2 linked regions of the Homo sapiens genome follow. The protein of the gene in region 1 interacts with the protein of each later gene in a pairwise test. Each region holds a gene or a part of one and is shown in the gene's direction. Other genes may lie near its edges.

Region 1 (3,811 bases):
GCACCCAGGAACGCCTGGTTCCCCCCTGCTGCGTTGCATGGGGTCTCCTCAGTTAGGAGGTCCTGGGCCCAGGGCAAGTCAGGTCCTGGGAGGTTGGGGGCTGGTCACCCTGCATGGCCCGGATGGGAGCCCTGTGCTTGGAATTTGGCTCAGCTAGGCTCCCTGGTCAGCGTATGGCCGGGTCCACATGTAGGAGCCACGGCCTAGAGAGGCCTAAACCCTCACCCGAGCCAGAGGCCACAGGGCTGGAGAGGCCGCAGCACGGGTGTGGTTTCCACGGGAGGCTCCAGGCCCGTCTCTGCTCAGCAGGGTGTGCCAGGCCCGAGGGAGCACCCTGGACAGCCTGAGGACAGCCCCGAGGCTGAGGCCTCCACCCTGGATGTGTTCACGGAGAGGCTGCCGCCCAGCGGGAGGATCACCAAGACAGAGTCCCTTGTCATCCCCTCCACCAGGTGATGGGGGCTGCACGGCGGGGCGGGGCGGTGATGCACCTGTCGGGGGAGGGGCCGTCACGGGCATCAGTCGGGGTGGGTGCGTGTCAGTCCATCCTGATGAGCTCCCTCGGGTGTAGACAGCAGATTCAGGGCCTCGTCCTTCTTAAAAAGGAGAAGCAAACCCCCTGGCCCGGCATTGGGTGTCAAGCCTGCAGCCCCAGATTCCACCCTACCTGTTTGAGGGCAGGGTCAGGCGGGTCTGCCCTCCAGCAGGTGCCCCCACATCCCCCTGAGTAGCCCCTGCCTCAGCCAAAAGACACACATACACCAGCTTGATTCTTCCAGGATTTCAATTTCATGTTTCTGTGATATTTGGGACTTTTTCCAAAGCAGCGAGTCTGGGCACTGGTTTTTACCTTGTGGTGGCACGCAGGTGCCTGTGTCCGCGCTTTGGAGCCAGGTCGCCCTGGCAGCCTCAGTGCCCTGCACTGGCCTGCACCTGGCTCTGCCCAGCTCTTGGCCCGGGCAGGGAGGGTGAGCTCAGTCCTCACGGTGGCTCCAAGCCTCCTGGCCTGGCTCGAAGTCTCACAGGCAGAGCTGTGTGGGGTCCCATCGGAGGCACGGCCTCACTTGTACTCAGCTGCTGCTGTGGCCCTCCCAGGGCTGGTGACCTCTCTGTGCAGCCCATGTTCCCACTGCCCATCAGTCAGCCCTGTGCTCACCCTTCCCTGTCCCCACCACAATGTGTAGGCCACTGCAGGCCTGCCCCTGCCTCTGCCCCTGTTCCTGTTCCTGCTGCCACAGCCACTTAGCCTGTCCTGGTCCCCAATAGGTCCGAGGGGAAGCAGGCTGGCCGACGGGGCCGGAGCACATCCTTGAAGGAGCGGCAGGCAGCACGGCCCCAGAATGAGCGGGCCAACAGCCTGGACAACGAGCGCTGCCCGGACGCCCGGAGCCAGCTACAGGTGCAGCTGCAGGTGGGGGTGGAGGGCGTGGCACGCCCAGGAGGCAGGGCTCGTGGTCACCCTGGCACCAACCAGAGCAGGGCAAAAAGAGAAGCACAGGGGGCCAAGGGTGCTGGGCCACAGAGCATGCCTGGGCTTTGGAGGGCTCCTGCTACACAGCAGGGCGGGCGGGCCATGGGTTGGTTTGTCAGGAAGACCATGTGGACCCCAGGGCAAGTTCTAGTCCTTCTGCTGCCCTCCCTGGTCCAGGGCAGCCTCATTGCTTGGCTGATTTAGCCCAGGGCAGTTCTCCAAGCTGGCCAGCTCTCTTCCTGCCACCGAGCCTCTGTGGCTGCAGGGGGAGCAGGGGCACTGCAGGCACCAGGGCTGGCGTGGTGGGGATGGGCGCTGTGCTTCTCTTCTGGGTGTGGACAGGGCTCTGTGCCTCCAGATCCCCAGGAAGACTGTGTATGACCAGCTCAACCACATCCTCATCTCCGATGACCAGCTTCCCGAAAACATCATCCTTGTCAACACCTCGGACTGGCAGGGGCAGGTAGAGGGGCAGTCTCTTGGAGTGGAGGGTCAGGGTGTAGGACAGAGGAGAGTGGGTTCCTGAAGCTGCCCCCTACCCGGCACACCTGGGTGCTGGAGCTGCTGGCTGTGGTTTGCCTGGACGTGCCTGGGGTCTCTGGAGCCCCTGAGAGCTTTGGTGAGGGTCAGGTGCTGGGGGTGGCCTGGGCGGCTGTGCCGAAGTCAGCGTCTGCCTGTCTTCTGCCAGTTCCTCTCCGACGTCCTGCAGAGGCACACGCTCCCCGTGGTGTGCACGTGCTCTCCTGCGGACGTCCAGGCGGCCTTCAGCACCATCGTCTCACGGATACAGAGATAGTGAGTTGGGCTCCACCCTGTACTCACCACCCAAGTACCCCTCGGGGTCCCTGCACCCCCACCTCTGCCCATTGCTCCGGGGCTAGGTGCGTCCTGGACCTGGGGCTGTGGCTGGTGTCCACAGAGGCTGACCCATGCGCTCTTCGCAGCCTGGCCTCCCCTCAGTTGTGGGCGGGAGCAGCAGCCTGGTGGGTGTCCTGCCACACTGGAGTGGTGGCCTCCTGGCCTGTCCTTGGAAGCCTGGGCTGAGGCCATGACTGTGTGGTCCCTCAGCCTGGGCACGTTTGGGCATGTGGGGGTCCTGGGCTTGGGCAGCTCCAGGGCAGTTGTGGCATGAGCGGCCACAGGCACGGAGCCCCCTGGGCTCACACTGGCATCCTTGGATGGAGGACGGCTCCCCTGAGGCGTCTGTCCCCTCTCCGTCCCACCTGCCTCTGGATTGCAGCTGCAACTGCAATTCCCAGCCCCCGACCCCCGTGAAGATCGCCGTGGCGGGAGCGCAGCATTACCTCAGTGCCATCCTGCGGCTCTTTGTGGAGCAGCTGTCCCACAAGACACCCGACTGGCTCGGCTACATGCGCTTCCTGGTCATCCCACTGGGTGAGCACCACGCCGTCCACCTGGGCCTGGGCACAGATGCCACGGGCAGTGTGGCGTGGCATGGAGTGGTGTGGCGTGGCGTGGCGTGTTGTGTGGCGTGGCGTGGCGCGGTGTGTCGTGGTGTGGCGCGGTGTGGCATGGCGTGGTGTCCCTGCTTGCTACACATTTGTTGTTTTTAAATGTTTGTTTGATACAGTAACACTTTGTTAATTTTAATTATATGCAAGATAACTTGATTGCCCTAAAACAGCCATTTGGGTCAAGATAAAGCCATCGCCCTCTGAAGGGGCCTGAGCTGGGTGTCTCCTCCATCAGTCGCTGTGATAACTCTATGCCAGTTTCGATTTCCAAAGTCAGAAGTGCAAAGCAGGGCTCGTTATTAATCCTCTCAAATCGTCCAGGTCCTGTGTCGTCGAACTCCATTACTTCTTTAGGTCCATACGATGTGTCTTACCACGAAACAAACCCACCCAGCCTTAATCTGTTGACCAGCAGCAAGGCCTGGAGGCGACACCTCTCCCGTGTGGCCCTCACGATGCCGACGTCAGAGCCCTGAGCCAGCCGAGGCCTCTGCACGGTCACATGTGCCCTGCTGGGCCTTCCTCAGTGGCACTCAGGGCTCTGGGACCTCAGCTCAGGGCTGGAGCTCCTTCAGCGGGGCCACAGGCATCCACCAGGGAGGGGCAGTGGTGGCTTTCTCTTTCGGTGGCAGGAAAGTGGGCTTGTCTGGAAGGCAGCAGCACAGGCCTGGGGTCGGGTGGCCCAGCTTTTGTGCCGCGGTGGGAGCCTTGCAGCTCCGAGTCCCCCGTGGTGACACCAGCCCCACCCCTGGCATGCAGGCTCCCACCCCGTGGCCAGGTACCTAGGCTCCGTGGACTACCGCTACAACAACTTCTTCCAGGACCTGGCCTGGAGAGACCTGTTCAACAAGCTGGAGGCCCAGAG
Region 2 (3,811 bases), on another chromosome or scaffold:
AAATACTGGTGGTGTAAGTTCCCCTGGATGTTCTCATCTTCATGTAAATTTGTTCATTTCCTTCCTTCCTTCCTTCCTTCCCTACTTCTCTCCCTTCCCTACTTCTCTCCCACTCTTTTTCTCTCTCTCTTTATTCTTTCCCTCCCTCCTTCCCTTCTGCCTTCCCTCCCTTCCTTTCTTCCTCCCTTCCTCTCTCCCTCCCTGCCTTCCTCCCTCCCTCCTTTTCTTCCTCCCTCCCTTCCTCCCTCCCTTCCTTCCTTCCTTCCTTCCTTCCTCCTTCCTTCCCTCCCTCCATTCTTTCCTTTCTTCCTTTCTTCTTTTCTTTTTCTTTGTCTCTCATGCTCTCTCTTTTTCTTTCCTTTTTGTTCTACTTTTTAAAAAAGACCACACTGCACTGAAATCTACATTACTTACCAAAACCTCTGGAGCTGCTTCTGTCTTGTAGGCAGGGAGCTCGTCCTGTAGCCCTTAGGTCCTCCCAGCCTCCTCCTCCTCTGATTTGTGGGTGCCACTGGGGCAGCTGCTGAGTCTCAGTGGTTCCTAGTCATCACCAAGTTCTGCCCACCTAGATGGTTTGCACCTGTCCTTACCAGAACCCTGCACTGTCTAGATGACTGAGGCTGCTTCTGCCTAACTGATCTGCTAGCTGTGTTCCGGGGGCACCCCAGGGTTAGAGGTAAATGGCACAGGCATTGAAATCTCCAACTGCTCTGACTCCAGGTTGGTGCACTTCAATGCCAAGTACTAACCACACAATAACAGGATGCCACCAAAACCTTGGTATGGGGCTGCTGCATCCTAATTAAAAAAAAGTAATAGATGTTATTTTTTAGAACAGTTCTAGGTTTACAGAAAAATGGAGTGGATAGTACAGAGAGTTCTCCTAGGCTCCCCTGTCCTCCAGCACACAGTTTCCCCTATTAGTATGTTGTATTAGTGTGGTCCATTCGTTACAATTGATGAACCACTATTGATACATCATTATCAACTAAAGTCCATAGTTTACACTAGAGTTCATTCTTTGAGTTTCACAGATTATGGGTTTTGGCAATTATGTAATGTCCTAAATCCCCAATACAGCATCATGCAAAATAGTTTCACTGCTGAAAATTCCCTGTACTTCACCATTTCGTGCCTCCTCCTCTCCTCCACCCCTGACAACCACTCATCGTTTTACTACTTCTATCTTTTTGACTTTCCAAGAATGTCCTAGAGTTGGAATTACAGTATGTAGGTTTCCAGACTGGCTTCTTTCTAGCATTATGTACTTTAAGTTCCTCCACGTCTTTTCATGACTTGACAGCTTGTTTTGTAAAATCACTGAATCAGATTTCATTGTATGGCTACAACACAGTTTGTTTATTCATTCACTTGGTGAAAGACGTCTTGGGTACTTCCAAGTTTTGACAATTATGATAAAATTGCTGCAAGTACTTATGTGCAGGATTTTGAATGAACTTAAGTTGTCCAAAGTGACTGTACACTTTTGATTTCCACTAGCTATGGAGAGTTCTGGTTGTTCCTCATCTTTGACAGCATTTGGTGTGTTCACCGTTTTGTGTTTTAGCCATTCTGATAGGTTTACAGTGATATCTCGTTGTTTTAATGTGCAATTCCCTCACAACAAATGATTTTGAGCATCTTTCTCATATGCTTATTTGCCATCTGTATATCTTATTAATGAGGTGTTCAGATGTTTCACTTTTTTTTTTTTTTTTTTTTTTTTGCTTTGTGTTGTTTAGTTCTCAGAATTCTTCATATATTTTGGACAGCAGTTTTTCCATCAGATTATTTTGTAAATATTTTCTACCAGTCTGTGACTTGCTTTTTCCATTCTCTTAACAGTGTCTTTCACAGAACAGAAGTTTTTAATTTTAATGAGGCTCAACTTAATTTTTTTTTCATTAGTAGATTGTGCTTTTGGTTTTGTATCTAAGAAGCCATCATTGAACCCAGGATCCCTCAGATTTTCTCCTATGTTATCTCCTAGGATTCTTATGGTTTTGCACCTTACATTTACGTGTAAGATTTATTTTATAAAGGGTATAACATGCATACCTGGATTTATTTATTTTTTTGCATGTGGTTGTCCAGCTGTTCTAGCACCACTAGTTGGAAAGGCTATCTTTGCTGTTTTAAATTGTCTCTAAACCTCCATGGAAGATCAGTGGACTGTATGTAGGCCTGCTTCTGGGCTCCGTATTCTTTTCCATGCATCTATATGTGTGTGTTTTCTCTTTTCACCAACTTCACACTATTTGGGTTACTGTAGCTTAATGTAAGTCCTGAAGTTGGTAGTGCCAAACCTCAGGGAGTTTTTCTGAACTTCATCATGAGAACCTGGTTGAGATCATTGTAGTAACACTTGGAAATGTGTGAGATTCCCCCTTAGTCTGGTCTTCAAGGAGTTTTTAATGTTCTAGCCAGGCTACCCTCAGCTTCTAGTAATCTGTCAGTACCATTTAAGTGCTCCTCCCACTTGCTGTCCCCAGTAGCTTCTCTTCCCTGTGAGCTGTGACTCCTTGTGTGTTAGCCTGTGTTTCTCATTTTTAAGGTGGCAGTTTTCCCTGTGACCTCAATTCTCTGATCCACCCTAGAAGGGTTGACTTTCAGTTTGTTCAGCTTTTTTCTAGCTGTGAGGACAAGTGATGACTGCCTAGCTCTTTCCATGTTGAAATAGAAACCCAAAAGTTTGTTTAAAGAATTACTTGTTATAAAAGTCCCCCATTGTTAATGTACAACTCAATGATGTAAGTTGATTTATCGAATTGTGCAGCCATCAGCAGAGTTCTACTTCAGCATATTTTGTCACTTCCCAAATTCCCTTGAACCTGTTTGTAGTCATTTCCTAATCCCTGGTCCCCATGACTGGGTCTGAATAGAATAAATATTTGGAAAGCAGACTTCATTATATTTATATTTTCCTGTGTTTGGGACTTTATATAGTGGACTATTGTGTTCGTTTTGTGACAAGTAGAGAAGAGATTGCATTCTAGGGATGGTTTTTGGGGGAACATAATAGTAGTCCTGTTTATGGCTCTCCTTGAATTGGTTCATCTGTGCTGGTGACTGGTATTTTTTACCAAACCTTGTCTGGTGAGCACAAGAAAAAGAATTTTTAAAAATCTACTATTAAAATTGAGATGATACATTTTCACATAATAATATTTGAAGTAGTGAACCGTCTTTATTTTATTTTATCTTTTTTTTTGGAGATGGAGTTATTTCTCTTTTCCTTGGGCTCGAATGCAACGGCGCCATCTCAGCTCACTGCAACCTCCACCTCCTGAGTTCAAGTGATTCTCCTGCCTCAGCCTCCTGAATAGCTGGGATTACAGGCGCCTGCTACCACACCTGGCTAATGTTTGTATTTTTGGTAGAGACAGGGATTCTTCATGTTGGCCAGGTTGGTCTCTAACTCTTGACCTCAAGTGATCCACCTGCCTTGGCCTCTCAAAGTGCTAGGATTACAGACATGAGCCACGGCCTGACCTGAACTGTGGGGAAAAGAAAGAGATATCAGATTGTTACTGTGTCTGTGTAGGAAGAAGTAGACATAAGAGACTCCATTTTGTTCTGTACTAAGAAAAATTCTTTTGCCTTGAGACGCTGTTAATCTGTAACCCTACCCCCAACCCTGTGCTCCCTAAGACATGGGCTGTGTCAACTCAGGGTTAAATGGATTAAGGGCTGTTCAGGGTGTGCTTTGTTAAACAAATGCTTGAAGGCAGCATGCTTGTTAAGAGTCATCACCACTCCCTAATCTCAAGTGCCCAGAGACACACTACACTGCGGAAGACTGCAGGGACCT

What was found.
Region 2: the proteins of PACS2 (region 1) and NBPF15 interact in a two-hybrid assay, tested with the Homo sapiens proteins (one large-scale study listed by IntAct).

Annotation. Positions count from the first base shown.
Region 1 is NC_000014.9:105,380,648-105,384,458, forward strand, and holds part of PACS2 (phosphofurin acidic cluster sorting protein 2), read left to right. Parts: intron 1-306; coding exon of another isoform or gene 307-309; coding exon 310-452; intron 453-1,266; coding exon 1,267-1,411; intron 1,412-1,829; coding exon 1,830-1,934; intron 1,935-2,159; coding exon 2,160-2,266; intron 2,267-2,711; coding exon 2,712-2,866; intron 2,867-3,705; coding exon 3,706-3,811. UniProt on the Homo sapiens protein: Multifunctional sorting protein that controls the endoplasmic reticulum (ER)-mitochondria communication, including the apposition of mitochondria with the ER and ER homeostasis.
Region 2 is NC_000001.11:144,451,554-144,455,364, reverse strand, and holds part of NBPF15 (NBPF family member NBPF15), read left to right. Parts: intron 1-3,215; exon of another isoform or gene 3,216-3,406; intron 3,407-3,811.